Homo sapiens: one gene and its partner. The protein of the gene in region 1 interacts with the protein of each later gene in a pairwise test. Each region holds a gene or a part of one and is shown in the gene's direction. Other genes may lie near its edges. The genes, in order: ITGB6 and FLNB.

Region 1 (15,369 bases):
ATGGATTTTGCCTCATTTCTTGCAGAGAGATGCAGATATCTAATGATAATTTTATGTGGGATTTTTTTTCCATGAAAGTAAGAGGAGAACATAATTATAATGTTTCATTAAGAAATGTATCATCTCCTAGGCATATTGCAAGGACTATTAGTCATTCTGCTGTGAATTAGGAAACGTACTGTATAATTGCAAAATTACATTAATATCTTCAATACAGTCAAAATAACATTTCATAGAATATTCAAGTTGAAAGTACCCTACAGAACATCTAATTTCCCAGACTTGCTTGAGGATAAGAATAATTTAGAATATTTAATAACACAGAATCGGTGGCTTATCCAAGACCCACTGAATCAGAATATTGGGGAAGGGGTCCAGGAAGCTGTGTTAGTAAGCAAGAACAGTTCAGCTTATTGGTATCATCAGAAAAGGTAAGGGAACACTGAACTTTGTTTTACAGAGGAAGGGCCTGGGGCTCAGAGAGGTCAAGGGACTGGATCACATTCACACAGCTACTGTACATCAGATGGGAATTGAATCTACCTCTCCTGAATCTAGTCTAGGAACTTCCCCAAAACCAGACTACTGCATTAGGGTTCAACAAAACAGAACTGAAACCCATCATTGTCTTCTGTCTATAAAGAAAGAAGGAAATAGTAATTTTTTCCAAGGGATAGGTTTTTATATAACTTTTAATATAGTCTTCTAGACTCCCCATGATTCAAGAAGGTCCATGAAAAACTGATGACATGCAGCACACACACACACACACACACACACACACACACACACACACTCCATTTCTGCTTTATCGTGAACTCAGAAGAGACCATGTTTAGTGATTAAACTAGTCTTTTTCTTAATCCTTTAAATATTCCATGTGCATTAATTATCACTCTTTTGGATTCTCTTTTAGAGTCAACCATCAAGTCTATATCCATTTACTTCAAATATCTAAATTCTTCCTTTATCTTTTGTTCTACTTTGAGGAATGCAGGGCTATTCTTCAACAAGTAACTCATTTTTAAAATTTAAGCAAGGCGAAAATGGTGTCAATATTTATCCTCTGCTGCAGAAAATGTAGATGAAAATCCAACAAGAAATGCCTTTCCGATGTCAAAATGTTGATTTTACCACCTTCTTATAATTTTCTTTATTTCTGCAGATTGTCCGAAGCCTCCAAACATTCCCATGATCATGTTAGGGGTTTCCCTGGCTATTCTTCTCATCGGGGTTGTCCTACTGTGCATCTGGAAGCTACTGGTGTCATTTCATGATCGTAAAGAAGTTGCCAAATTTGAAGCAGAACGATCAAAAGCCAAGTGGCAAACGGTATGTGGAAACTTAGGGCTACTCCTTGTCTAGGGGAGAAAGAGGCTGGTGGAAGAGATTGAGGGGCTCAGCTTTCTTCTGCTCTGGGAGTTCAAATGTCACATTTTTTCTCTCCCACTCTCGCCATGACTCCAACAGCTTTGATTTCTGTTCTGCTTCAGGGGCAAAGGTCCAGATGACCCTCATAGCTTATATTTGTCTTAGTGCGGTGGGGATTTCCACCACGATGAAGGGTCTCATGAGGCTCCTGAGACAGCTGCTTAGGGACATTGGGGAAGTATATTTTTACCCAGCGCTTCCTCACCACTAGGAGTATCCCTCAGGCCCCATTTGATAAAGCACGGGTGCTATATCTAAACATTTCCATAAATTGGTTATGTTATAATGAATGGAATAGTGTTCATAAATAGTACGATAATTCATGCCAATTTCTTTGGAAATACTTGTTTCTGATATAATAGGTTACAAAGCAAAATTGAGATGATTTTTAAAATGCCATGCAGTTATTTTTTCTGAATAACATAAATTTTAAACAGAGACCTGAAAAAAACCCCAAAAGTATTAACCTTTAAATACATAAACTCAACAGAAATAATTTAACTGCCTTCTCTTCACAAGAGGCAATCAGAAGGCAGGACTATAGTTTTCTGTGTTTCTTTTCCACAGGAGAGATAATTACATTTCTAGAGACCCATAGAAACAATTCCATAGTTTTAATTTCATCTCTCTATCTCTAATGGTGTGTCCAGGTATCTAACAGCAATTATCTTACATTGCTGATTCTAACAACAATGATATCACTGGAGAAAATACAGGTAGACGCAATGCTCCTTTGGATTTGTCCGCCCAAATAATTTGATGTTAACAATTTTTATAGCAATGCCTTCAACTCCTAAAGCAAATGGAATTTTCCATTTTTGATAAATTTATCTTGATAAGGGATGTTTCTGTTGTATGCGGTTATTCTAAATTAATGATAATACATGGTACAGGACAATGAACACTGAAAATTTTTATCTACTTTATCTTCCCATTAAAAATGCATTTAGATACAACAGCCAAATGCAATGTATGGATTTTGTTTGGATCGTGATTTGAACAGTCCACCTGTAAAAATACATTTTTAAAACAACTGGAAAAAGGCTGGGCATGGTGGCTCACACCGTAATCTTAGAACTTTGGGAGGCCAAGACAGGAGGATTGGATCACTTGAGCTCAGGAGTTCGAGTTGGGCAACATGGCAAAACCCATCCCTACAAAAAGAAATACAAAAATTAGCCAGGCATGGTGGTTCACACCTGTAGTCCCAGCTACTTGGGAGGCTAAGGCAGGAGGATCACTTGAGCCAGGAGGTCAAGGCTGCAGTGAGCCATGATCATGCCATTGCATTCCAGCCTAGGTGACAGAGTGAGCCCCAGTCTCCAAAATAAATAATAAATAAATACATAAAAAGACTGAAAAAAGATTAATACATGCTGGGTATTAGAATGATAGCAAATAAGTATGGTTAATTTGATTAGGTATGATAATGGCATGGTGACATTGCTAGAAAATATCCATATTTTTTAGAGATGCATACTGAAGGAGTGAAAGGAAATGAAAGCTGGGGTTCACTTTGAAATAATTCAGCCAAGAGAGTGGGATGGAGGGATAGTTGAAGCAGGTGTGGCAGAACTGTGATAACTGTGGAATCTGAGCGATGGGTCTTTGGAGGTTGGTTATATAGCTTTCCTCTTTTTGCGAATGTGTGTATTTTCCATAATTAAGCAAAATTCCTCAGGAGAAGATATAATTTACTCATCCCTAACAATGTAAAAGGTAAACAGGTTAGCTTGGTGACTTAGAACACAGTACTAATGAGCCCAAAGTTGTAGGACAGTTCACTTCACCTGACCCCTGGCCACAGATGTTATTTTTGACTTTCATCAACTCTCCAACAAATGCCTTGCCATGGTTAGAAGGGCAACCAGGTAAAAGAATATGGTTAAGTTGCCACAAAGGACAATAGCAGCAAGCCCCATGATATAATCCTGGTATTTCCATTTTGAAGAGCTAAACTAAGGCTCAGAGAAGTTAAGGGACTTCCCTAACTTTTGGTGCATGGTTAAGCTGAAGCCTAATTGTTCATTGTTCTTCTAAGCACAGCCTTTGGTTGACCCTCCTGGAAATAATAAGCAGGTGTTCCACAAACACGCACTTGGGCAATTATGTGATGTGTATCTACTAACCAGCACATTTCAATGTTCTCATACAGAGGCATAAATACTGACAAGTGATTAATATCTTTAAAATAACATTTTAATTAACAGTTAATTTCCCCAAAAACATGAATTGTTCTCCCTCAGGATGTAGAACATGACTGAAATTCAAATGCTGAATTTTTGCTGTTTCTTCATCTAACATGCGACCCGAACATGCATTAAACAGAAAAAAAAGCATAAATGGAAAATATTATTCCCTTATTAAATTGAGTTTCTTTGAATAACAAATGTTTGATGTTCCTGACTAGATAATGACTGGGTAGTAATTATTCACTTGGATGCAAAAAAGGTTTAACTCAAATAATTCAGTTTAAATTTCACTAACATCCTACTGGAAAAAAATGTCGCTCACTGCACACATTTAGGGGTCTTCAATTTAACTGAGTTTTTTCCCTAAAACCTATTTCTTCTTGAAGAAGTGAATTTGACTGGTCTTTGAAACCCAGTGCCCTCCAGAGACAATAGGGACAGTCAGGCCTCCTGGCCATAGGACTGCACTGGACTCATAAAGTGACAGGGCTTAAGACAGAAAGGTCTTCACTCCTACCTCCTAAAACATTTCAGAGCAGCTGTAAAGAAAGGTTATCTTTTTTATTATGCTTTAAAAAATAATGCCCACCCCCACATATTCTTTATGAAAACACAAATGAAACATATTTAAATTCATCTTTGATTAGAATTTTTTTTCTAGGATGACAAGTCATTAACTTGAGGCAAAAAAATGTTCAGCCTGACATTTCTTGCAGTCATGAATTGATTTTGTACTGTGCTAAGCAAATCAGGTCTGTGTTTGGCAGTTGGGCGATCATTAAGGAAGCTGTGGGTCATGACAGAGTTTTCCTATTACCACTTTTTCAATCTTGAAAAATGTGTCATTGCATTTGCAGAATCCACAGCCTAAATTAGCACTCCCAGACACCTGGGGGAATCAGCCTGGTAACCCCAAATGGTTAGGGGAAAACTGACCTTTTCTGAGCAGTGGATTGCACACTCACCCGAAATAGAGTAGGACTCAAGCCTGCATTTCAGCTGGAAAGTCTGTGTAGAGAGGTTACAATCAGCAGAGCACTAGAGGAGGCAGTGTGGACATTTCCACACCTCCTCCTGGAACAAAACCCAATGTGAGTGCATTATCCTGACCTCTGATCTTCAGCTGAGGCCAGGAAATACCCTATTACACACAACAGCAATATGTACTTGCTCTTCGTCCACTTTTACACTTCCACCTTACCCTCTTACTCTAGTGAAGTCTGCTTTACCCATCACTCCCTATAAGCAATGTCTTGGCCCTAAACCAGTATTGCAAGGGACTCCCAAAATATTGCAAACCTGAATGAATGAAGTTGCTTTAAAATACGGAATGAAAACTCTGCCATCAAAATTAAACATTCAACTAAATATCTACTAAATAACATTGTGTTATCTTGTCAACTGCAATTCAAGTCACCTCCTCTATAATGCATATCAGTTATATTAAGTGTGGGATATGGGTGTATTGTAGTATGTTTGACATGATATAGGGTGCACCTACAAACAAGTATCTGGTCCTACGGAGCTCTAAGCTGGCCCTGCTCACAGCCTGTGTCCTCTTTCCAAGTGTCTTTTCTGTTCACAAAGGTGGGAGCTTCCTGGAGGAAGTGGGAAATTCCTCCAGGACAGGCTTACCCTGTCATTGCTGGCCTGAACCTCTTACTTTTTTCCATCTTGTTTCTTCAATGGAGTCTCTCATTCTCCTGTAACCAACTAGATTCTAGTCTCAAATTTAATAGAATTCCATGCATGATTTTTGTTTGCAAATGAGACTCCATCTACATCTAAATTCACATCAGTCTGCCCTTTGCCTTCAAAATCTCAAATTCTTAGAGCAGCAAGACTAGATAAGATCTGGAGGTCCCTCAGAATTAACCAGGCTGCTCTCAGGAATAGAAGCAATATACCAACTTAGCTTTCACCCATCATCCACCACCAGCCAAGGAACATTTTTCTGTTTGGCTTTATTATAGAAATAGCATATCTCTTTAAAGGCACATAACAAAAGTAGCATGTCACTTAGTCAGAGGTCAGGCCACTGGCTCTGGACAACATAGAAATGGGTGCAGGTGTGATTCCCACTCACAATGAGGGCACTGAGGCCAGTGAGTGGGAAAGACCGGGGAGTGTTTCCGATTTTATTCAATTCTTTTAAGAGCTGAAAGAAATATACTGAGCAAGCAAAGACAATTAAGGTTTTTTTTCAAATCCACCCCTAGAAATTTCTACCATAGCTATAATTCATGGAATGAGGTGATCAAAGTATAAGATTTTAACTTAGAAGGTCAGAGGCGGTACCTGGATTCCATACATACTCAGTAATGGGCTTAGAAATGTTAAGTGTACCAAAGCCCTGGGGGAAAATATCTTAATAATCCTCTCTAAAACCTAAAAGAAAAGGAAATTCCAAATGTGAAGAAAAGCTATAAATAGGAACTAATGAGAAGAGGCAGCATTTATGGAGCATTTGCTATGTGCTACACACAGTGCTAAAATACTTTACCTGGACGAGGTAGGAACAGATAGGGACACCAAGGCTCAGAGTGTCTTCAGTACGGTCATGTGGTGGAGCTGGGTTTGGACCCAGACTGTTGCCATAGCCTGTGTGATCAGCCTTGGAAAGTGGGAGAGAAGAAACTGTACCTTACCCAGACACCTTCCTCCGGCCTGGAACAACTAGAGAGGCTTGATCCTTCTGGACCTTCTGGTCCTTTTGGCTACAGCACCACTGCTATTGGCACCTGGAGGCACATCTATAACCCAAACAGCACAGCTGAGCTACCCAAGAGTCCCACACCCAACCTTCCCACTGCCCCCAAGGCAAAGCCATTTTTCCTGGCCTGCCTTTGGACTGCAACTCTTTCATGACCCCAGGGTCCTCCATACCAGTCTCTTGTGGTTGTCTTACACAGTGTTGTACATAGTAAGCAAAAGACAGCTGGTTCTTTGGCTACCCAGGGCAAGTGTTAGCTGTCCAGAGGATGGTTCCTCACTCCTCCCAAGCAACTACTTTCTCCCACTTCTGAGTTTTGATTTCATCTTAGCATGATTATTTGTGCCCTTCTTTGATGCCTCTCATGAGTAACACGTTTGTTAAAGGCAGATACTGTGTCGTTCATTTTTGTATGTTCCTACTGGTTTCACTTTTCCTGTTTTTTACTTTTTTGGCTTTGATTTCACTTTTGGTTCATCTGTCACTGTTCATGCCACTCATTCCATACATACTGAGTACCTGCTTTGGGCCAGGGACTCAGTGCTGGGAAAACAGCAGTGAGCACAACAGCTGAAGCCTTGTTTTCTATCCGTAAATTTGTGCATTACCAAAAGAGGTAAGATTTTTAGAATATACATATGGGACTTGTTCTGTATATTTAACAAAATGAAAATGTATAAATTGCAAAACACTAAACATATGAAATGCCAAATTAATCAAAATTGTTCTAATGGTTTCCAAGACTGAGCTTGACTCTCCTCTTCCAATTTGCACTACGTATTAAAACAGTATAAAAACAAAATATACATACTTTCACTTGAATCTTTTTTTTTTTTCCAGGGAACCAATCCACTCTACAGAGGATCCACAAGTACTTTTAAAAATGTAACTTATAAACACAGGGAAAAACAAAAGGTAGACCTTTCCACAGATTGCTAGAACTACTTTATGCATGAAAAAAGTCTGTTTCACTGATATGAAATGTTAATGCACTATTTAATTTTTTTCTCTTTGTTGCTTCAAAATGAGGTTGGTTTAAGATAATAATAGGACATCTGCAGATAAGTCATCCTCTACATGAAGGTGACAGACTGTTGGCAGTTTCAAAATAATCAAGAAGAGAAATATCCTTAGCAAAGAGATGACTTTGGGGATCATTTGAGGAATACTAACTCTGTTGCATTAATGCTTCAAAAAATCATCAAATGATTCATGGGGGCCTGATTTGCATTTGAAAAATGTTTGAAATTAGAGTCTCATTTGTTTCAGGAATGCAGCTACCTGAGTTTTTTGTCTCGGCAAAGTCACAAAGCCCATATACTCACATTGTGTGTCTATACTTGCCAATTAATTCTAAACTTGTAGGAAATATGCCCTCTCTTAAAGGAGAATTTTTTTTAAATCTCTGAGAAATGAGATTCTGAGTTTATTTCAGCTAAAAGGTTGCAATTCTTCTGAAGATATCTCAAATATAAGGTTGAAAGTTAAGTGTTAATAATTTTTGTGAATTTATACACACCTAAACGTTAAGTACACAAATATTTTATTTGTTTTACAAATAAGGAATAAGTAATTTATAAATTAAGAAGTTACCTATAAAAATAAAAAGATAACAACCCTATCATATAGCTTATTTTTAAATTACCTGAAAAACGATATTCTACACTGTTTCCTTTTTGACTCTGAGTTTTCAAACTGTTACTTCTCCCATATTTCTCAATCCATTTCACTCAGTTGCACAGTCTTTTAAACCCTGTAATTGTCATACCAAAGTTTCTTTTTAAAAAAAAATTACTTTAAATGCTTAGTTTATTCAAAGAGCGATCCAATAATATAAAAGGAACATGTGTTAAACACAATAAAATTTTAAATGGCTCTAAATCAAGCACATCAAGAGTATACAAGTCTTAAAGGCTTTTTAATACATACTCTTTTCCCATCTATGTAACCCAACTTGCACATTTCAGCTGCATGTGGTGAATATGCATCATATATTTACTTTAAGAGGTAAGATTTTACTTGCAAAATACATGTGCAAATTAGGGATCCATCAGTTGATGGAAGAGATGGACTCTAGAATATTATTTCTTGTGGTTATTACTCCTTTACAAAGCACTTTCGTCTCACTTGATCCTCATAAGGAAACTAAGGCTCAGAATGAGTAGAGCTGGGTTCAGAATCTAGCTCTTCTAACTCCAAGCCATCTCCTCTTTCCACTGCAGGAAACTGCCTCTTTTGTCAGTGAAATAATAGAAAGATTGTGTTAGTTAAGTGATAACTGTCATTTGTTTGAAAATGTTCGAGACTGAACAAATAGCATTTAAACTGCTGGCATATAGATGAGATATTGTACTTTTGTGCAATGTTTATTACCTTTGATTAAATTGTAATGTGAAGCTTTTACTAGGTGAATAGTTCATTATGTAGTGGAGGCTTCGTGGTTGTCCATTGAATTGTCACAGCAAAATCTATAAGTTTCTTCAATTCTACAAGATAGATCCATATACCTTTGATCACTTGGAGACTCTTTTTTTGCTGGTTTCTAGATAACTCAGGTAAATCAGACCTTTACAGAGTACAGGGCTAGGTGAAAGAATTACTGAAAAATCACCTTGAAAATCCGAAGGGCTGATATACCCTTTATGTTCCTGACTGATGCGCAGAACCTGGGGGAAATCTACAGCAATATACAGGTTGCAATGCTGATAACACAACAGCAATCCTCTCCTCTACGTGGACTTACTGTTGTTTTTTTAATTATTATTGGAATGGGATTTTAGAAAATAGAAGTTACCTTTGTGTGTGTTTTAGGGAAGGTAGAGAAGAATCTGCTCTTTCTCTGAATACTGTTTTGACCCCAGGCAGGACCTTGGAAAGGCCAAAACATTAACAGTAGTACTTCTGTTCACTGAAGAGTTATGTTACATGAAGATAAAATGGTTTTGTCGTGTTTATTATTGTATTTTGTGTTGATATAAATAAACATGGTAATTTAAACAATGAACCTTAGATGGATGATAGTTTCTTTTATTTGCTTGGCACAAAACCCTCTTCTTGGATTTCTGGATTCCTCTGTGACCTGTTCTGACTGCCTTGATGGTCTTGGTCTGGGGCCAAGGAGAAGAGCAAAAGGAGGCAGCCACAGAAGGCAAGAGACAGCAGGGAGCGGGCCTGGACATCACCATTTTGTAAAGTCAAGTTCTTTAGAGTTAGTGCTATAAACTGAAATGTATCACCTTCCACCCCCAATAGCCCCTGTCCCCCCAAAATTCATGTATTGAAGTCTTAACCCCCAGTAGCTGAGACTATAACTGTGCTTAGAAATAGAGCCTTTAAAGAGATAATTAAAGGCCGGGCACGATGGCTCATGCCTGTAATCCCAACACTTTGGGAGGCTGATGCAGGCAGATCACAAGGTCAGGAGTTCGAGACCAGCATGGCCAACATAGTGAAACCCCGTCTCTACTAAAAATACAAAAATTAGACAGGTATGGTGGCAGGCGCCTATAGTCCCAGCTACTTGGGAGGCTGAGGCAGGAGAATCACTTGAACCCAGGAAGCAGAGGTTGCAGTTGGCTGAGACCACGCCATTGCACTCCAGCCTGGGTGACAGAGTGAGACTCCATCTCAAAAAAAAAAAAAAAAAAAAAAAAGAGAGATAATTAAAATAAGGCGATGGAGTTGAGCCCTGGTCCACTATGACTAGTGTCCTTATAAGAAGAGGAGATTAGGACACAGACATAAGGAAAACCATGTGAAGATACAGGGAGAGGGTGGCCAACTACAAGCCACGGAGAGAGGCCTCATAAGAAACCAACCCAGTTGCCACCTGCACCCTGGACTTCTGGCCCCCAGAACTGAGGGAAAATAAATTCCTGTTGTGGAAGCCCCCTAGTCTGTGGTGCTCTGCTCAGCAGCCTGAGCACACTCACGCGCTCAGGGAGTCTATTCTTCTGCACATCCATTTGTTCGGTGTCATGGTGCCATGCTTATCTTCTAAATCAGGAAAATGAAGCACAAAGAGACCAAATGCTGGAAAAAGGAGTCAATTTAATCTTTCTCTTAGGCCCATTTCTTACAAGAAGACAGGCAAAGTCAAATCAAGAGTACTTATATTCTGAAACACACTGTCTCTTGTAAACTAAAGGCCAAATGTCTGAAAATAGAGAAACAGCTCCCATTTTGAATAGCACCAAGAAAGTCCCTTCTCGTCTTAATTTTTCCATCTGGGAGGTGGAATTCTTGTGTCTTCTAGCAGCTATAACAATTCCTGACACAGTAGCAACTCAATAAATTCATTCAACAAATATTTATTGAATGCCTGGTATATGCCAGACACTGTTCTTATGACTGTGGATACAGTGAACAATGAGCAAAACAAGTAATCTCTATGCTTCCAAATGAGAGAGAAAATAATAAACAAGTAAATATACATTATCAGGGTCCTGGACCCAGTTTGTGCAGACCCCAGATCCACTTGGTCCCACCTGCCTTCCAGGCCTATGCCAGGAGTTACCCCAGCACCAACCTGCACAGTCTCCTTGGTAGTAAAACCCCAGCTTCTTCCTAACTCCTAACAGGTTAAGGAGCTGCTGCAATTCCTGTGCCCAAGTCCAGAATGGCTTCCCTAGCTGCTGCCCCAAGGGACCACATAAGACAACAGGGAGGTTCAGGGGAGTCAACACTCTGAAGAATGAATGTAGATCCATAAGAGACAGAGATAAGAAGGAACCAGCAGATGAACAGGAGATGAGCCACCAGCGATGTCTTCTGGGGAAGCAGTGGCCAGCTTCCAAATGCCTCACCTTGTACCTGCGTTCCCTCATTAGCTGCCTCCCTGCCCTTTTTCACTGGGCTAGCACCCCTCAATAAAACATTAGCACATAACCTTGCTCGGGTTCTTATTATATAAGAAGACTGGACTAAGACTGTCTAACCGTCCTAAGAACTATGCAGAAAATAAAGCAGGACAAAAAGCTACACAATGCCCTGTGAGAGTGCACCCTTAGAAAGAGTTGTAATTTCTTTTATTTTTATTTGTTTATTTTTTTGAGACAGAGTCTCACTCTGTCACCCAGAATGGAGTGCAGTGGCATGATCTCAGCTCACTGCAATTTCCGCCTTCTGGGAAAGTGAATCCAAAAGTGAATTGCTCTAGACAGGGCAAAGGGTGGAAAACTTGATCTTCTGTCTTTTCATTTGGTTACACAACCAGCAAGGGAGCAACATGGCACCCCAGAAGTTTTGCATCCCATGAGCTCTCCTGGAGCTAGGTCCTGGGAGAGGCCTGACAGTCAAAGACACAGATTTGACCACCATTACCCCACCCCCCACTCTTTGGTGTCATTGACTTGGCAAGACTTCACAAATCCCATGGAGGATCTAGTTCAGTTTGAAATTTTAATCTGACCTTTGCAATTTCCAGGTATGTAGTTTATGAAAGAACTGCTCAAATAGTATTTGTTTTTTTGGCCTAAAATGTATTTACATTTATGGTCTTGCATATTAATCAATCCTGTTCTAGGTCAATATCCGAAGCTCCGTATCAAGGAACTCTGTTGTTTGTCAATAACTGACCCAATGAAAAGTTTATTTTTTTAATCCAGTTGACTTTGCTATGCATAATATAGATGTGTGTGTATGTGTATATGTAAATACATACATATATATTTCTTATTTCAATAGCTATATCTTACTAGCATTAAAGAGCTTGCATTGTTAATAAAAATTAGGGTTAACTGAATGTTGTGCACATGTACTCTAGAACTTGGGGTATAATAATAATAATAAAAAAGAAAAAACAAAAATAAAATCAATCAAAAGCTCAAAAAAATTAGGGTTAAAAGAAAAACATTAGATGAATTAATTTTAACAGAGTTTAATTGAGCAATTCACAAATTGGGCAGTTCCTCAACCAGAGTAGGTTCAGAGTGACTCAGGCAGTGCTGTGTGGTCGGAGAGGATTTACGGACAGAAAAGGGAAAGCAAGGTACAGAAAACAGAATTGACATGCAGAAACAGATTGGTTACAGTTCTGCATTTGCCCTATTTGAACACGATTTGATCAGTTGGCCACCTACACGTGGTTGAAGTATGGCTTCTGTGATGGGCTGAGACTTGGTTACTCATTACAAAAGTAGGTTACAGTCTGTTTCCACACCCAGTTAGGTTACATCATTATATATGGAGAAACCTTTAGGCCAAATTTACCAAGAGGCAGATTTAAGCTAAACCTAATTTGACTTAAGGTAACACCTACTGTTCTAAATACATTATACATGTTAACTCATTCAGAGCTCACAACAACCCTATGGGGGGGGTATTATTTTTATCTCCTATTTTACAAGTGAGGAAACTGAGGCACAGAGATGTTAAGTAAATTCCCCAGGTCATACAGCTTAACAGACTTCGAAGTGTCAAAGATAAACAAAGCCAGACACTAGTTAAGGTGGAAACAACAGACTTTAATCAGTAATACGCTATTGCAATAGGGAAGAGTCCAGCTTGAAGTGAACTCAACTTCAGTTTATATGAAGTTTACTGAGCATTTTATTTTATTTTACTTTATTTTTATAATTTTAAGTTTTTGTGGGTACATAGTAGGTGTATATATTTAGGGTGCACAGGAGATATTTTGATACAGGCATACAGTGAGTAATAATCATATCAGGGTAAATGGGGTACCCATCACCTCAAGCATTTAGCCTTTCTTTGTGTTACAAACAATCCAATTATACTCTTTTAGTTATTTTGAAATGTGCAATAAATTATTGTTCACTGTAGTCACCCTGTGGTGCTATCAAATACTATATCTTATTCATTCTATCTGACTATATTTTTTGTACCCATTAACCGTCACTCCTTCCTCTCCCTGCCCCCCTACTACCCTTCCCAGCCTCTGGTAACCATCCTTTTACTCTATCTCTGTGAATTCATTTGTTTTACTTTTTAGCTCCCATAAATAAATGAGAACATGTGAAGTTTGTGTTTCTGTGCCTGGGTTATTTAACATAATGACCTTCAGTTTCATCCATGTTGTTACAAATGACAGGATCTCATTCTTTTTATGGCTGAATATAGTACTCCATTATGTGTATGTACCACATCTTCCTTAGCCATTCATCTGTTGATGGACACAGGTTGCTTCCGAATCTTGGCTATTGTGAACAATGCTACAATAAACATGGGAGTGCAAATATCTCTTTGATATACTCATTTCCTTTCTTTTGGGTATATACCTAAGAGTGGGATTGCTAGATCGTATGTAGTTCTACTTTTAGTTTTTTGAGGAACCTTCAAACTGTTCTCCATAGTGGTTGTACTAATTTACATTCCCACCAATAGTGTATGAGGGTTCCCTTTTCTCCACATCCTTGCCAGCATGTGTTGCCTGTCTTTTAGATAAAAGCCATTTTAACTGGGGTGAAATGATATCTCATTGTAGTTTTGATCTGCATTTCTCTGATGATCAGTGATGTTGAGCACATTTTCATATACCTGTTTGCCATTTGCATGTCTTCTTTTGAGAAATGTTTATTCAGATCTTTTGCCCAATCTAAAATCAGATTATTGGTTTTTTTCCCATTGAGTTGTTTGAGCTCCTTATATAATCAGGTTATGAATCCCTTGTCAGATGGAGAGTTTGCATTTTCTTCCATATTGTAGCTTGTCTCTTCACTTTGTTGATTGTTTCCTTTGTTGTGCAGAAGCTTTTTTTTTTTTTTTTTTTTGACAGAGAGTCTTGCTCTGTAGCCCAGGCTGGAGTGCAGTGGCACAAACTCGGCTCACTGCAACCTCTGCCTCCCAGGTTCAAACAATTCTCCTGCCTCAGCCTCCTAAGTAGCTGTGATTACAGGGGCATGCTACCATGCCCGGTTAATTTTTGTATTTTAGTAGAGACGGGGTTTCACCATGTTGGCCAGGTTGGTCTTAAACTCCTGACCTCAGGTGATCTGCCCACCTCGGCCTCCCAAAGTACTGGGATTACAGGCGTGAGCCACTGTGCCTTTTAACTTGATGTGCTCCCCATTTGTCCATTTTTGCTTTAGGTGCCCATGTTTGTGGAGTATTATTCAAGAAATCTTTCCCCACTCAAATGTCTTGGAGAGTTTCCCCAACGTTTTCTTGTGGTATTTTCATAGTCTGAGGTCTTAGATGTAAGTCTTTAAATCCATTTTGACTTGATTTTTGTACATGGCAAGAGATAGGGGTCTAGTTTCATTCTTCTGCATTTGGATGTCCAATTTTCCCAGCACCATTTATTTTTGAAGAGAATGTTCTTTTGTCGACAATGTTCTTGGCAGCTTTGTTGAAAATGATTTCACTGTAGATGTATGGATTTGTTTCTGGGTTCATGTATCAGTTCTTTCTCACATTTCTGTAAAGAAATACCTGAGACTGGGTAATTTATAAAGAAAAGAAGTTAAATTGCCTCACAGTTACGCAGCCTGTACAGGAAGCATGGGCACCTCTGCTTCTGGGGAGGCCTGAGGGAGCTCTTAACTCATGGCAGAAAGCAAAGCAGACATCTTACATGGCAGGGGAGGGGGAGGTGTCACACACTTTTAAAACAACCAGCTGTCATGATTACTCACTCATTCACTATCATGAGAACAGCATGGAGGGGATGGTGCGAAACCATTCATAAGAACTCTGCCCCCATGAGCCAATCACCTGCCATCAGGCTTCACCTCCAACACTGAGGATTACAGTTTGATGTGAGATTTGGGAGGGGGCACAAATCCAAATCATATCAGTTCTTTATTCTCTTCCATTGGTTTATGTATCTATTTTTATGCCAGTAGCATGCTGTTTTGGTTACTATAGCTCTGTAGTATAATTTGAACCAGATAATGTGATTTCTCCAGTTTCGTTCATTTTACTCAGGATAGCTTTGGCTATTCTGGGTCTTTTGTGATTCCATATAAATATAAAACTGTTTTCTTTTTCCATTTCTGTGAAGAATGTCAATGGTATTTTGACAGGGATTGCATTGAATCTGTAGATTGTTTGGGGTAGTATGAACATTTTAAC
Region 2 (15,369 bases), on another chromosome or scaffold:
ATTTCAAACAGAAAAGGAAAGAGAATAGTATAACATGAACACTGATGTACTTATCACTCAGCTTCAGATGTGCAACACATGCTCATAAAATGATTTTTTTATACAAGTAAAAATATATCCATTTTTCATCTAAAAAACATTACAGTTAAGGGATAATTCCACTTTAACCCTCACCTCTCCTTCTCCCTAGGGTTAACCAAAGTTTTCAATTCAGTTTCTGTTCTTCCAGATCTTCTCTCTGCATCTATACATATAGATGTGCCTGTGGAACACATTTGGCTGTATTTATTTTGCATTAAAGTTGCCCTGCTGTATAAACCTACTTCTTCGGCCTGCCTTCCAACAGTGCATCTCGGGAATCATTCACTCCTACATCTTTTCCGTCTGTGTTTACTGCTGAGTGGCTCCAGACTGGATGTACCTCAGGGCTCACATTCACCTGGTTTCAGGCTTACTGAGGCAGGGCTGAGTGCATACCCCCAGGACGGGGCCTCCTGTATTCACCTGTGAGGGTTTCTCCAGAGTACCACTAGCAGTGCCATTAGTGAGCATCTTCCTTCACTCGTGACCCAAGTGCACAAGTTGCAAGCAAGGCCAGCTCCCAGTTGCAGAGATCCAAAGTGAGAGCTCACTGTTGGCTTTTGTGGCTGGAGCAGCCAGCTCTGAGTGTGTAAACGTCCACTGCCCAACCCTGTCATGTGTCCCCTTGTCACTCCTTTCCCCAAGACACTGAGAGCTTTGACTCCAGAACAGGAAAAGCAGGGTGCCAATTAGGAAAGCCTCTTTTCCGGTGGGAAGTAGCGATCCGGGACCTCCTTGCCTGTGGTTCGGCAGTGTCCATCTTGCCAGGCCCTATGTTCCTTCAGAGTCAAGGTTCTCTGGGTTGTGGCAGGGGCCCTGTGTTCCCAGTGCTTTTGTTTTGGGTAAAGTCCTTTCCCTGTTCTTGTCTAATCTAACACTTGGGCTTCCTGCAGCCCTGCTTTGCAGAGACCTTTTGGAAACCATCACGGTACAGTCAGTTCTCAGCACTTGCTTCAATCGGCTCGCATTTGGCAGCTCTGTGACTTCTGCTTTCTTGAGGGGGAGGGGTGCCTATAAGATGGAGTTGGCTGCCAAGAATTAGTAAATAAAACATTGACTTATGAGGGTGTTTGGATATCAAGTTAACACCAAAAGTAAGTAAATAAGAGACGACAGTGTCAGATTACAACTTTCTGGTCAGCAAAGATTGTGGGGTCAGGTAAATTTCACTTTGAGTCCCAGCTTGGCAGGCTGCTGCATATGTCACCCTGGACAAGTTACTTAACCTCTCTGAGCATCAGTTTCCCCATCTGTGAAAGCCATTGGTTAATAATAAATACCCCATAGGATTGTGGTGAAAATTAAGACAATAACCTATTTGTGCTTGGCATATAAAATGCATTCAGTAAATGATAGCCGTTATTGCTGTCATCACTAATTGATTATTGTGCCGACACTTGTTGTTACTGAGGCTGAGATGCTGATGATACTTACTCAGCTTTGCTGCTTGTCCTCTGCAGCAGCTGTTGCTTACAGTGGAGGCTGAGATAAGTCCCCGTGTCCAAAGAACCATTGCTTCTGTGCTCTGGATTGTTCCTGCTGCTGAAAAGGGTCAGCTCTTCACCTCAGCTTGTGTTTCTTTTCCAGGGGTGGAAGTTGGGAAGGATCAGGAGTTCACCGTTGATACCAGGGGGGCAGGAGGCCAGGGGAAGCTGGACGTGACAATCCTCAGCCCCTCTCGGAAGGTCGTGCCATGCCTAGTGACACCTGTGACAGGCCGGGAGAACAGCACGGCCAAGTTCATCCCTCGGGAGGAGGGGCTGTATGCTGTAGACGTGACCTACGATGGACACCCTGTGCCCGGGAGCCCCTACACAGTGGAGGCCTCGCTGCCACCAGATCCCAGCAAGGTCAGCCTTTGCTTTTGTCCCAGAACTTGTCTCATTGCTGTCAAACATGACACCATAGTCCTTCTCTGGTTCTTCCTGGCAAAGACCTTCTGAAAATCGTTTTGTGATGAAAGTTAGCACAATTCACTGTGAAAGGTCCCCTGGGTAGGTGGGTCACAACCCTGCTCCTCCTCTTGCTCTCTGACTACAAGACTTTGGTGAGGGGCTCCCTGTCCCAGAGTCTTCTTTCTTCGCTTGTTAGCATAATCACAGTCCTCACTACAAAGCCAGCCTGTAAGGGGTAGGTGAGTTAGCAAACGTGGAGGCCTCTGCCCAGCACCCAGCTCACAGACGGAGCTCACCCTCCAGAAGCTAGAATCATGTAATATAAAAATACATTATTCTGGCCAGGCGCGGTGGCTCATGCCTGTAATCCCAGCACTTTGGGAGGCCGAGGCGGGCGGATCATGAGGTCAGGAGATCAAGACCATCCTGGCTACCACGGTGAAACCCCGTCTCCACTAAAAATACAAAAAATTAGCTGGGCATGGTGGCGGGCACCTGTAGTCCCAGCTACTCGGGAGGCTGAGGCAGGAGAATGGTGTGAACCTGGGAGGCGGAGCTTGCAGTGAGCTGAGATCACACCACTGCACTCCAGCCTGGGCGACAGAGCAAGACTCCGTCTCAAAAAAAAAAAAAAAAAAACCACAAAAAAAAACATTATTCTTGGCTGGGCGCAGCGGCTCACGCCTGTAATCACTGCACTTTGGGAGGCCAAGGTGGATGGATAACTTGAGGTCAGGAGTTTGAGACCAACCTGGCCAACATGGTGAAACCCCATCTCTACTAAAAATACAAAGATTAGCTGGGTGTGGTGACGCATGCCTGTAATCCCAGCTACTCGGGAGGCTGAGGTGGGATAATCGCTTGAACCTGGGAGGCAGAGGTTGCAGTGAGCTGAGATTGTGCCACTGCACTCCAGCCTGGGCAACAGAGTGAGATTCCGTCCCCTCCAAAAAAAAAAAAAAAAGTTCATCGTCATTTCTTCATAGTAACCCTGACTCAAGGGGTTTTGGAAGATTTCCAGTGGTCTCAATGGTGTGAATCCTATGAAGGTGTCTTATTTGTTGAATTAGAGGTGAAAGCCTCCTTCCTCACTCTTTTTTAGAAACAGTTTAGTTTTATTATTATGCAGAATTTGTTGAGCAAATTGCAACAGCCCAAGCCACAGCTAGCTCCACAAGAGCCCTTCCATGAGCCCTCAACCTGGGATCTCGTGTATCTTTGTTGGAATGGACATTAGGTTTCCAAGTCCAGGCCTGTGATTTAGAAGGGTCAGGTTGGGTAGGAGAGAGGAGAGTCTTGGAGGGGCTGCTCCATGGGGGTCACACCTCTCTCCTGTGGGTTTTCGCTGGTGATTGAGTTCTGAGGCATTTGCTGCATTGACTGTTGTAGCTTTAACTCGTGTGCACGTGTGACACATAAAGCCCCAAGAGAAGGGCTGCCTGGCTCAGATGCACTTCCATGCTGATTATATGCATGGGTGTTGAAAGCAGTGCTGGCTGAGCAGCGATCCCAGTGCAGTTTGACTTTATTCTTTGCTCAAATAGGTGAAGGCCCACGGTCCCGGCCTCGAAGGTGGTCTCGTGGGCAAGCCTGCCGAGTTCACCATCGATACCAAAGGAGCTGGTACTGGAGGTCTGGGCTTAACGGTGGAAGGTCCGTGCGAGGCCAAAATCGAGTGCTCCGACAATGGTGATGGGACCTGCTCCGTCTCTTACCTTCCCACAAAACCCGGGGAGTACTTCGTCAACATCCTCTTTGAAGAAGTCCACATACCTGGGTCTCCCTTCAAAGCTGACATTGAAATGCCCTTTGACCCCTCTAAAGTCGTGGCATCGGGGCCAGGTCTCGAGCACGGGAAGGTGGGTGAAGCTGGCCTCCTTAGCGTCGACTGCTCGGAAGCGGGACCGGGGGCCCTGGGCCTGGAAGCTGTCTCGGACTCGGGAACAAAAGCCGAAGTCAGTATTCAGAACAACAAAGATGGCACCTACGCGGTGACCTACGTGCCCCTGACGGCCGGCATGTACACGTTGACCATGAAGTATGGTGGCGAACTCGTGCCACACTTCCCCGCCCGGGTCAAGGTGGAGCCCGCCGTGGACACCAGCAGGATCAAAGTCTTTGGACCAGGAATAGAAGGGAAAGGTGGGTTTCATTTAAAAAAAAAAAAAAAAAAAAAAAGACAAGCTGGGACTTAAGGGCTACCTGAAACTTGGAGCTGCAAACTCAGCCACCTGCAGGAGCCAGGTGACATATAAGGCGGTGCTCACCTGTTCCCTCTGCCTCGGGGAGTAGTTGGGGGGCCCTGGTGAAGGTTAAGCACATTGCATTTCTGGGGACCGTGCTACTCAACCCCTGTTTTCTGTTTCTCCATGGGGAACAGGACCTAGCATTGTCAGCAGAATCTCTAGTTTTTTGGCAAAGGCAGAAATCTTGATTTTTCTCTGGAAACTCAACATACAACATGTTGGCATTTAATTGGAAAAAAGTTTAAAATGTAGTGTTGTCTAACACCTGCATGCCACACAGCAGGTTAGTCTTCAACCTTTAACCTGTCCTCGAGCCCGGTGTGAGCAGTCGTGTTGTCACTTAGCCGTGGCTACTCTAGAAAGGCCTTCTTTGGGATGGAGGGGGTTAATATTCTTGATTTGAGAGTTAGAAAAACCAGTTTTCCAGTTACTGAAATTGGACTTCATGTGTCCTGAAGTGCCAAGAACCTTGGTTCTGGGGTTTGCTTTTGGGTCTGGGGTACTGGTGGCAGTGTTAGCTATGTGCTTGCTCTGCAGATGTGTTCCGGGAAGCTACCACCGACTTTACAGTTGACTCTCGGCCGCTGACCCAGGTTGGGGGTGACCACATCAAGGCCCACATTGCCAACCCCTCAGGGGCCTCCACCGAGTGCTTTGTCACAGACAATGCGGATGGGACCTACCAGGTGGAATACACACCCTTTGAGAAAGGTGAGCCGCCCTGTCCTCGGACTGGACCCTCGTTCAGAGCTGCCCTTGGTCATTGCCTCCTGGTGGCTGGTACTGATGCCTGCCCCATGTGCTAGGCCTGTCTCAGCAGGGCCACGTGCAGAGTGACAGAGTGGAAGTCAGCGTCCGCTGCAGTCACCTGCCCACTCAGTGCCTGGCTTGCTGGCCTTGTGTAATAGGTGGGCTGGGTTTAGCCTCAGTCTCACCTCAGCAAGTTATGGGGTAATGTCATGATGTTGCTCATTTGTGCCATTTTTCTTTGCGTATGAATTTCTTTCTTCTTGAGTATTAGGAATTATAAAAAATTTCAATAAATAGAAAACCATAAAGAAAAAAAAGTGCCATGTATATCTCCACTACCTGGAGATCGGAAGCCTGCGATATTCTGATATAGATATTTTCAGTCTTCTTGTGGATGCCTGTTTCTTCTGTTTCACGGGTTTCGCTTTTTCTTTTGGTTAATGGCTGGATGGTGTTTTCCCGAATGAGAGTAGTCTGTTTAGGATGACTGACTTGAATATTTGCTTGGTTGGGGTGGAGTGGCTTATGTGACTGCAGATAGACGGTTTGTATTATTTAAAAGTCAGATCATACCTACATTACTGTGGGATTGTTTTGTTTTGTTTTGAAACAGGATGTCACTCTGTTGCCCAGGCTGGAGTGCAGTGGTGTGATCACGGCTCACTGCAGGCTCAACCTCCTGGGCTCAAATGATCCTCCTGCCTCAGCCCCCTGAGTAGCTGGAACTGCAGGTGTGCACCACCACACTCAGCTAATTTTTGTATTTTTTGTAGAGATGGGGTCTCGCCATGTTGCCCAGGCTGGTCTTGAACTCCTGGACTCAAGTGATCTACCCACCTCGGCCTCCCAAAGTGCTGGGATTATAGGTGTAAGCCACTGCCCCCAGCCACATTACTGTGTTTTTAACCCCCTTTTCCAAATAACATAGTATAGCATGCAGACTTCGATGCTAGATGAAACTCTGAAGTAGAGAATCATTTTTCACAAATAGGGGATTTGTATGCAAATATGCGTTTCTGTTTGTTGTTTTGAGCAGGTCTCCATGTAGTGGAGGTGACATATGATGACGTGCCTATCCCAAACAGTCCCTTCAAGGTGGCTGTCACTGAAGGCTGCCAGCCATCTAGGGTGCAAGCCCAAGGACCTGGATTGAAAGAGGCCTTTACCAACAAGCCCAATGTCTTCACCGTGGTTACCAGGTAGGCAAGGCCCTACATTTGGTGTCTTGAGTCTCACTTTTGTGGCTAGATTCTACCTATGTGTCATGGTTTCCTAACTTTTGATAAGATGAATTTTTATTTTTATAACATGTATTTCCTTCTGTAGAGACTTATGTTACATAGAAAGACCAAGCATACCTAAAAAACATACCAAAGCACTTGATAATGGTCATGAAACTATTTAGCAAACCAGGAGTCAATCAAGCTCTATAACTTGATAATGTAAAAATTTGTAGCCAACCTTGTAAGTATTTTTATTAAAGTTGGTTGCAAGGCATATGCCTGCGTTGTACTTGCAGTCCTAGCCAGTGCAATTAGATAAGAAAAATAGGCTGGGTGTGGCGGCTCACACCTGTAATCTCAGCACTTCAGGTGGCCGAGACGGGACAATTGCTTGAGGCCAGGAGTTTGAGACCAGCCTGGCCAACATGGCAAAACCCCATCCCTACAAGAAATATAAAAATTAGCTGGGCTTGGTAGTACACGCCTGTAATCCCAGCTACTACTTGGGAGGCTGAGGCATGTGAATTGCTTGAACCCAAGAGACATAGGTTGCAGTGAGCCGAGACCGCGCCACTGCACTCCAGCCTGGGCAATGGAGTGAGACTCTGTCTCAGGAAAAAGAAAAATAAATGAAGCATAAGCATTGAAAATGAGGGGTCAGAGTGTCTTTACTTACATTATACTAATGTGAAATTCCCTATGTGAGAGGTGTAGTAATTGAGTTGGGGTGGCTACGTGGAATAGTTTATAAAGGGAATTTGCATGAATTTTGGCAATAAGCAGACCAGCATAAATAAATGGTGCACATTTCACTTTCTTTTCCACTCTTTCCAGAGGCGCAGGAATTGGTGGGCTTGGCATAACTGTTGAGGGACCATCAGAGTCGAAGATAAATTGCAGAGACAACAAGGATGGCAGCTGCAGTGCTGAGTACATTCCTTTCGCACCGGGGGATTACGATGTTAATATCACATATGGAGGAGCCCACATCCCCGGTGAGCTATTCCTCAGAGAGGACCCCAGAGAATAATTGATTTTGCAGGAAAATGGGTTTGATTTTGGTTATCTCTCTGAGTGGGGAAAACAATCTGATATTTGTAATAGCTGCAAAAGGAGAGTTTTTCTTAGGGCTACATCTCCAAGATTATCTCAACTCCCAGTAGAACCGGTAACATGGCAAAAAGCATCGGCTTAGAATTTTGACTGGAAACAGTTGTGCGTGTGTTGGAGGACCTAGTTCTTGATTCAGGGGAAAGCTGGTTCTTTACAAAGTTGAAAATCACAGTGGCTCACACCTGTAATCCCCAAACTTTGGGAGGCCAAGGCATGCAGATTGCTTCAGGTCAGGAGTTTGAGACCAGCCCAGGCAACATGGGGAATCCCCATCTTTACAAGAAATACAAAACTTAGCTGAGTGTGATGGTGCGTGCCTGTAATCCTAGCTATGTGGGGTGGGGGCTGTGATGGGACGATGTCTGAGATGGGAGCCTGGGAGGTTGAGTGAGCTGAGATTGCGCCACTGCGCTCCAGCTTGGGTGACAGAGGAAGACCCTGTCTCAAAAAAAAAAAAAAAGAAAAAGAAAGAAAATTTCTACCTTATTTTGTGCTTGGCTCCTTATTCATGTGTCTTGGTTTCTTTTTTTTCACTGACAATACTAGTAGCTGATCAAGATATGCAGATTCAAATTCTTTCTTTTGTATTTAGTGATGTCATGTGTAATCACTGTGAAACACGGTTTCTCAACTCCGGCACTATGACACTTTGGGCTAGATGATTCTTTGTGGTGTGGGGCTGTCCTGTTCATTGTAGACTTTTGTCAGCATCCCTGCCCTGTACCTGCTAGATGCCCATAGCAGACTTCTCCTTCCCCATTCTTATTTGTGGCAACCAAAAATGTCTCCATATCTTGCCAGATGTCTTAAGGGACAAAATCACTTCAGCCTGAACCACTGCTGTAAAGATTCAAACAATAAATAAATATATGACTTAAGTAGTGAAAGACCCTCCTCCATTTGTTTTGGGGGGAGGACTCTCCATAGGTTCTAGTTATCTACTCAAATGATTGTCACCCCCACACATTTTATTTATTTATTTCAATAGCTTTGGGGTACAAGTCGTTTGTGGTTACATGGATGAATTCTATAGTGGTGAATTCTGAGACCACCTCCCCCGCCCCCATTTCTAAAAGGGCAGGCAAGTGTGTGGTGTGGACAGAAGACCGAGGGCTGGGGCTGTTCTGGGCCACTTATGCCTTGTCTTAGGTGTGGTGTGAAGAGGGCAAAGCCCCACCCCAGGACCCCAGGAGCAGAAAGAGCCTCAGCGGGGTCTTGTTCTTCTTTCTCTGGGTCACGCTGAGAGGGGAAGGGCAGGTTGAGGGGCCCACTGCTGGGTTCTGGGTTAACTCTCAGGCAGCTGGAGTGTCCACTGACCACACGCTTTCCTGATTCCATTCCTGCTTCCCCCTTACCACATGGAAATGTGCACACACACTCACACTCACTCTCTCTCACACTGATCAGAAAGTATTGACATTCAACTCAGACTGATTCTACTCAGATACTCATTTAAGCCTCAAGTCATTTAAAACAACATGTTTCTCCTCAAACTTGTGCTTGCGGCTCATTCAATATAGATTTAAAAAATTCCTATAATCACTAGTCTAGGGGACTTCAGCTGTGGGCAAGACAAAGTTCCTGCCCTCAGGGAGCTTACTGTCTAGGGCTTTTACAACTAAAACTTGTGATGACTGCTATGAAGAATGAGAATGGGGCTCGGTGACAGAATTCAGAGCTACGGGCTTGTTTTGGAGTTTTGTAACACTTGCGTTAGGAGAGAGTTGGGCACAGGAAACGGGTAGAAGGCTGCTCCCAGGAGGGGTGATGTGGCTCCGACCTGGCAGGCAACAGTGGAGATGAACATCTCCTGTGGCAATGAAACTTTTTGACTATGGGGAAAGGCTGGTGAGTGCCACCAGCTTCCGAATCCCCCTTACAGAAAGGGGTCAGAGTTTGTCCCCTGTGGCCGACCTGTGAGCTTAAAGCAAATGGTCGTCTTTGAGCATAACAACAGAAAGACACTCATTTGTGGTTTTCCCATCAGGTGTGGATGGTGCCTTTTTATGTTTCAGGCTCTCTGTTGCCTCCCAGAGAGCCAAATGCCGGCTTTTCCAGAACCCCAGAACTTTCCCAGGCAGAGATATTTAGTGAAGTGTTGGTTGGTTTTCTAAGCATCAGGCTTCTTAGCTAAGGCAACCTATGGGGGTACTGCCGGGAAACAGTCGGCTACCTGCCACCTTCTAATTTGCTTTCATGGTAATTCTGGGTGCTTAAATATTAGCCTAGTTTTTCCTGGCCTGGTTAAAAACCCGGAGTGGAGTTATTTTTAACAACGTGTCCTGTCTTACCCGTAATGGCATGTTGATTTCCTGTGGTAGGCCAGCTGTGGTTGGTTGGTGGCGGCTCCCTAGACCACTGGATTGACTGGGGTTCAGAGTGCATGAGGAAGAAGATCTGGCATGAGGGAATGGTGACATGTGTCTGGGCATGGAACAGGGGAGTGGCGGATAATGCTTGGGGTCTGCCATCTTGGACAGTTTATCTTACCCGGGTTTGTTGGTTTTTGGCTACTCTCATGCTGAGCTCAGACAACTTCTAGTGGAGGCTCTGACTTAAAGATTGGCCTCAGAGGTAGTCCCTTGCCATCAGCTGTTGACATTGAAATCCTCAACTGTCACTCTCTAAAGTAAAGCCCCCTTTTGTTCCTCTCACCCCAGTGTGGAGGCCTGTGCTTGTTTGCCAGGGCCAGCCATTTATTTCACGTAGCTAAAGACCTGGATGCCGTTGAAACCCAGCTGTTGTTAGAAAGCCAGGGACTCAATTCTTTGTGTGTCTTGGCTGTCTACCATCTCTAATTCTACAAAGTATAAATTCTCTGGGATGCAAAGCAGAGATCCCTCAGCTTTCACGGCAGTCATTAACTTTGCCAGATACCATGGGGAGCACCAGGACTCCCATGCGAGGCAGAGGTGCACGTAGCCCCTTGGTGATGGGCGTGGTAGCCTGAGGCATGCTGCCGTTCGCTGGATGGGGAGGTCCCCCTCCACAGTGGAGTCCATGAGTGTCCTTGGCCTAGCCCTTGTTTCTCTGTTTAGCACTTCTCTAGCAAATCACTATCTCCTCTCCTCGACTCCTCTGTGCTTCATCTTTAAAACTGACACCCTCAAGGAGTCAGAGGCCCTCAGGGTCCCCCGGGGGGTCAGCCATGTAGCAGGAGCTCAGCTTACACTCAGGAAGACGGCAAGGCTTCACCAGGTGGCCGAGTGACCGAGAAGGCTGAGTGTGGTCAGAAGGTGCCAGCTGCATTGGAGGGAGAGGAGTCTGGGGGACACACAGGAGCCATGTGTGGGGGACAGGGCTGGATGTGGGCTGCAGGGCCTGCCCATCTCTCTCCGTTCTGTTGTTCCACCACTTGGCTTCCTCCTTCAGTTGCTCCAGCAGCCTGTCTCCTCCCTCGCCTCTAGGCTCCTGCATGTGCTGAGGCCTCTCTACTTGAAGCACCTCTCTGTCTGCTCCCTCTTGTGCCGCAACTGAGATGTTACTGGAAAGCTTTCTCTGGTCTCCCGCAGACCAGGTTAATTGCCTCCTGAGTGCTCCACCTTCCACACCCCAAATATGTTATGTAGGATGTTAGAGTGACTTGCTTGCCTCATCCTTCTCCTGCAGTTGTGGGTTCCTGGGGGGTGTTAACCGCTCAGGATCCAGCACGTGGCACAACATCTGCACGTAGTAGGTGTTCTGTGAGAATGGTTGACAACAATGAGTAGGCACATGAGCAGTGCACACAGTGAGGCAGGGGGAGCTGACCGAGGCCTGCATGGCCGAGGTCCCGGGGGAGCAGCAGTGCTATTCTGGGTGTGCACAAGGTGGTCTCCAATTCCCAGCTTGTGCTCAGAATCCCACAACCTCTCTTCCAGGCAGCCCCTTCAGGGTTCCTGTGAAGGATGTTGTGGACCCCAGCAAGGTCAAGATTGCCGGCCCCGGGCTGGGCTCAGGCGTCCGAGCCCGTGTCCTGCAGTCCTTCACGGTGGACAGCAGCAAGGCTGGCCTGGCTCCGCTGGAAGTGAGGGTTCTGGGCCCACGAGGTAAGTGTGCACCCTGCCTTCCTGCAGACATTCATCTGCCCCAGGCAGGGGCAGCTGTAACCCAGAGCAGATGCTTTGCTTTTGAGTTTGCTCATGAGCTTAAAATTAAATTAAAAAAAATTATTGTTTCATTTCTAGTTAAACAGTAGAAATTCCTGCTTACAAGTAAGCAGGCTTGTTATTTCTCCAGTGATCTGTCCCCCCATTTAATAATATGGCTATCAATTTCTTAGAGGAAGCAGCAGTATTTGGGCTGTCATATGTAATATGGTGGCGACTGTTTCATTATGTGTTTCAGCATTTGTGAGGGGGTGGGTTGCTCTGGATGTGGCAGATGGTGGGGTTTGGAGGTGATAACTCATTGAGATATCTTGGTGTCCATGTGGTACATACCAGAACCTCTGGGAATGCCAGGCACATGATGCACGTGATACGTGGCTTTGTCATTGTCTTAGTTCCCCAGAGAGAGAGTGTGTCTTGGGGAATGGGCTTTGTTGGCAATTTGGCCTGCCTTGTTGGCAGCTTGGAACTTGGGTTTGGTAAGGCTAGCGGGCCATATAGGGACAAAGCCCTGAAGTGCATTGGAACTTGCCTTTTTTGATAAGTGACCATGTTTCCTCCTCCAGCACTTAAAATGTGCCTTTCTCCCACATAGAGGACAGTGTGCCTAATTTCTTACGTAATCTGGATTTTCCTCGCCAATGATATGTTCTTGGATTCACAGAAGTGGCAAATGGGGTTTTCCCTCTTTGAAGAGGAACCTTCTCCTTCATGGGGTTCAGCAGGAGGTTTTATCTTTTGAAGCTCAGGGCAGAAATGGTTTGGGGGAAATTAGGTCATGGGTCTGGGATCAGATTCTGTGAAGTTACTGAGCTTCAGGACCTGCATGTGTTTGTGTGCATGTATGTGTCCCTGTGTATGTGTGAATGAGAGAGGGAGAAAAAGAAGAAAGAGAAGCTTTACTTGGATATCTGCCTCTATTATGAAGGACTCTCAAGTAACAGCCTTTTGATTTTAGCTGACGACACGGATTCCCAGTCATGGCGCAGCCCCTTGAAAGCCCTTTCAGAGTTCTTTAAAGGTGACCCGAAGGGTGACTTTAATAAGACAGGTTTGCATTTTCCCATGGCTGCTGAATTATGTAACCCAAATGCTTCTTGCTGGCCTCACTTCTAAAATTGCTTACACCTGCCTCATCTGCTTTGCTTAATGAGCATGCCATCCTTTGATTAACCTACCCTGGAGTTGACCCATCCTTGACTGTCACGTTGGAAGCTGGGATCTGGACTCTGCAACCCAACGCGTGCCTTGATTATGTTTTAGCATAATCTCTAACATCTCCACAGGCTTCACCTTGAGGGTCCCCTTGCCCCATGAGATTGGCACCCTCACCTGCCCTGCACCTATGCCCCAGCATGCTGGTACCACAGTGTTCTTTGCTCAAAGGTGGCCACAAGTCTTGACTAGCCAGCCCATTGGTTAATTTTTGCTCTTCACAATTCTGGACTCTTTGGCAGTGTCTCAGCTGTAGAGTAAAATTGCCACATCCTAAGCGTGCCTAACCAGCTTGAAAGGTTATATTGTGTCTTCAACACACATCATCCACATACACCCTCCAGCAGCAAGCACAGGCAGTCTCCTTAATTATACTCTAGGGCAGACTGAGTGTATTTTAGCCAACAAAAAGCTAAAGGTGTCTCTCGGGGTCATTTCTGCAACCATGAATTGGGGATCCTGTGATTTTTTTCAGGCCTGTGATTATGGTTGCTGGCCTTTTTGTTACTCATCAGTGGAAACCAATAGCTCTTGGGGATGGATGTGGTCCTATTTCAGACTCAGCCAAGGGTGGAGTAAAGGTGAGGCCAGGCAGCTCCTTAAACCTCTCATCTCTGTCCTCAGGCTTGGTGGAGCCAGTGAACGTGGTGGACAATGGAGATGGCACACACACAGTAACCTACACCCCATCTCAGGAGGGACCTTACATGGTCTCAGTTAAATATGCTGATGAAGAGATTCCTCGCAGGTAAGCTCCATCCATCTGCCCATCCATTCCTCCATCAGTCTATCTGTCCACCCATCCATTCCTCCATCAGTCCATCCACCCATCCGTTCCTCCATCATTCCATCCATCCACTCATCCATTCCTCCATCAGTCCATCCATCCACCCATCCATTCCTCCATCAGTCCATCCATCCATCCATTCTTTCATCATTCCATCCATCCACCCATCCATTCCTCCATCAGTCCGTCTACCCATTCATAGAGGCAGCAAGTATTACATAGAACCTGCAACTTGTCACCACACACTAGCCTTGATATTTGTGGCTCCCGCTCTCTCACTCCCCCAGTTCCTTTCAGACATCTTTAGTTTAAAGGTGAGCTGAAATTAAGAAGTTGGAAATCCTAACCACGTGTGGTGGGATTCGCCTGTAATCCCAGCTACTTGGGAGACTGAGATGAGAGGATCACTTGAGCCCAAGAGTTTGAGGCCAGCCTGGGCAACATAGACCCTCCCCTGACATCTCTGGAAAAAAAAAAAAAAAAAAAAAAAAAAAAGCAATAGTAGTAGACAATCATTGATGAAATAAATAATTTATTAGTTTATTAGAGGCTTCCTTTTGGTGTTTTGGTGAACCTGCAAGTAGTTTTCTGATTGGGACAGGACAAAGGTCTTTACTTCAGGGTTTGCTTGATAAAAGCATTTCCAAAAGGTTTTACATAGAAACCTTGTTCCTTGTTGATATTAATACAAAAAAAAATGTTACATAAGCTCTTCACCTCTTGGAACAATCTCTAAGGGTTTTCTTTTCTTTTTTTAAAAAATCATGCCCCTTAAGATGAAAAACTTTCACCCATATCCCCTAACACATATTTTATATAGAGATAAGCATATTAGCTCTATGTAGAAATATGTAATTTATAAATTACATTTGTATATTGCTTTACTAATATACCATGTACCATATGAAGCATACTATAGAATAATTATAGATACAGAATATAGAATAAGATGAGATATAAATATTAAAACTGAAGTTCCAGTATTCTCTTTCCATTTGGTGACCATGATCTTAGCATAACAAAAGTGGGGTAAATGTGTTTAACCCTGTGTTTCCCAAACTAATTTGTGAACTCTTCCTCCCCAAACTACTTGTATCCCTTGGAACAGAGGTCCCCAACCCTTGGAGCGTGGACTGGTGTGGGTGCACGGCATGTTAGGAATTGGGCCGCACGGTGGTGGGTGAGCCATCATTACTGCCTGAGCCCTGCCTCCTGTCAGATCAGCAGCTGCATTAGATTCTCATAGGAGTGCGAACCCTATTGTGAACTGCACATGAGAAGGATCTAGATTGCACACTCCTTGTGAGAATCTAACTAGTGCCTGATGATCTGAGGTGGAACAGTTTTATCCTGAAAGCATTCCCCCACCAGGCCCCCTGGTCTTCTACGAAACCAGTCCCTAGTGCCAAAAAGGTTGGGGACCGCTGCCTTGGAACACACTCAGGACAAAACCAGTCTGTCATATGATGGTTACTACCTCATAGTTGTAAATTTCTGCTAGACTTAGGCACCTTGACTAACTCACTGTCTTATCTGCTGTAGAAATCCCCTTTTCCATCCCACTCTTATGTGTAAGAAAAGTCAGATGCAGCTGGGTTGACATGTATCTTTATTGACTAGGGTGTGTGTGTGTGTGTCTATCAAGTCCCTTCAAGGTCAAGGTCCTTCCCACATATGATGCCAGCAAAGTGACTGCCAGTGGCCCCGGCCTTAGTTCCTATGGTGTGCCTGCCAGTCTACCTGTGGACTTTGCAATTGATGCCCGAGATGCCGGGGAAGGCCTGCTTGCTGTTCAAATAACGGTAACTTGGAGTTATTTTCTGAGCCAAACCTTAATCCTAAGACTTAATTTCTGGGCCAGATTTAAGAACAAGGGTTTCAATAACCGATTTCTGACTCAATGCAAGTTGTTTGTTAGATTTTCCCACCAAAGAGTCAGTAAATGTGCAGAAGCAGAAGCAGCTCACCTGA

What was found.
Region 2: the proteins of ITGB6 (region 1) and FLNB interact in a two-hybrid assay, tested with the Homo sapiens proteins (one study listed by BioGRID).

What each region holds. Positions count from the first base shown.
Region 1 is NC_000002.12:160,093,642-160,109,010, reverse strand, and holds the end of ITGB6 (integrin beta-6 isoform a precursor), read left to right. Parts: intron 1-1,165; coding exon 1,166-1,332; intron 1,333-7,176; coding exon 7,177-7,275; 3' UTR 7,276-9,340; downstream 9,341-15,369. UniProt on the Homo sapiens protein: Integrin alpha-V:beta-6 (ITGAV:ITGB6) is a receptor for fibronectin and cytotactin. It recognizes the sequence R-G-D in its ligands. Internalization of integrin alpha-V/beta-6 via clathrin-mediated endocytosis promotes carcinoma cell invasion.
Region 2 is NC_000003.12:58,119,573-58,134,941, forward strand, and holds part of FLNB (filamin-B), read left to right. Parts: intron 1-1,668; coding exon 1,669-1,931; intron 1,932-3,520; coding exon 3,521-4,118; intron 4,119-4,759; coding exon 4,760-4,933; intron 4,934-6,008; coding exon 6,009-6,171; intron 6,172-7,029; coding exon 7,030-7,190; intron 7,191-11,168; coding exon 11,169-11,336; intron 11,337-12,354; coding exon of another isoform or gene 12,355-12,447; intron 12,448-13,235; coding exon 13,236-13,359; intron 13,360-15,043; coding exon 15,044-15,200; intron 15,201-15,369. UniProt on the Homo sapiens protein: Connects cell membrane constituents to the actin cytoskeleton. May promote orthogonal branching of actin filaments and links actin filaments to membrane glycoproteins. Anchors various transmembrane proteins to the actin cytoskeleton.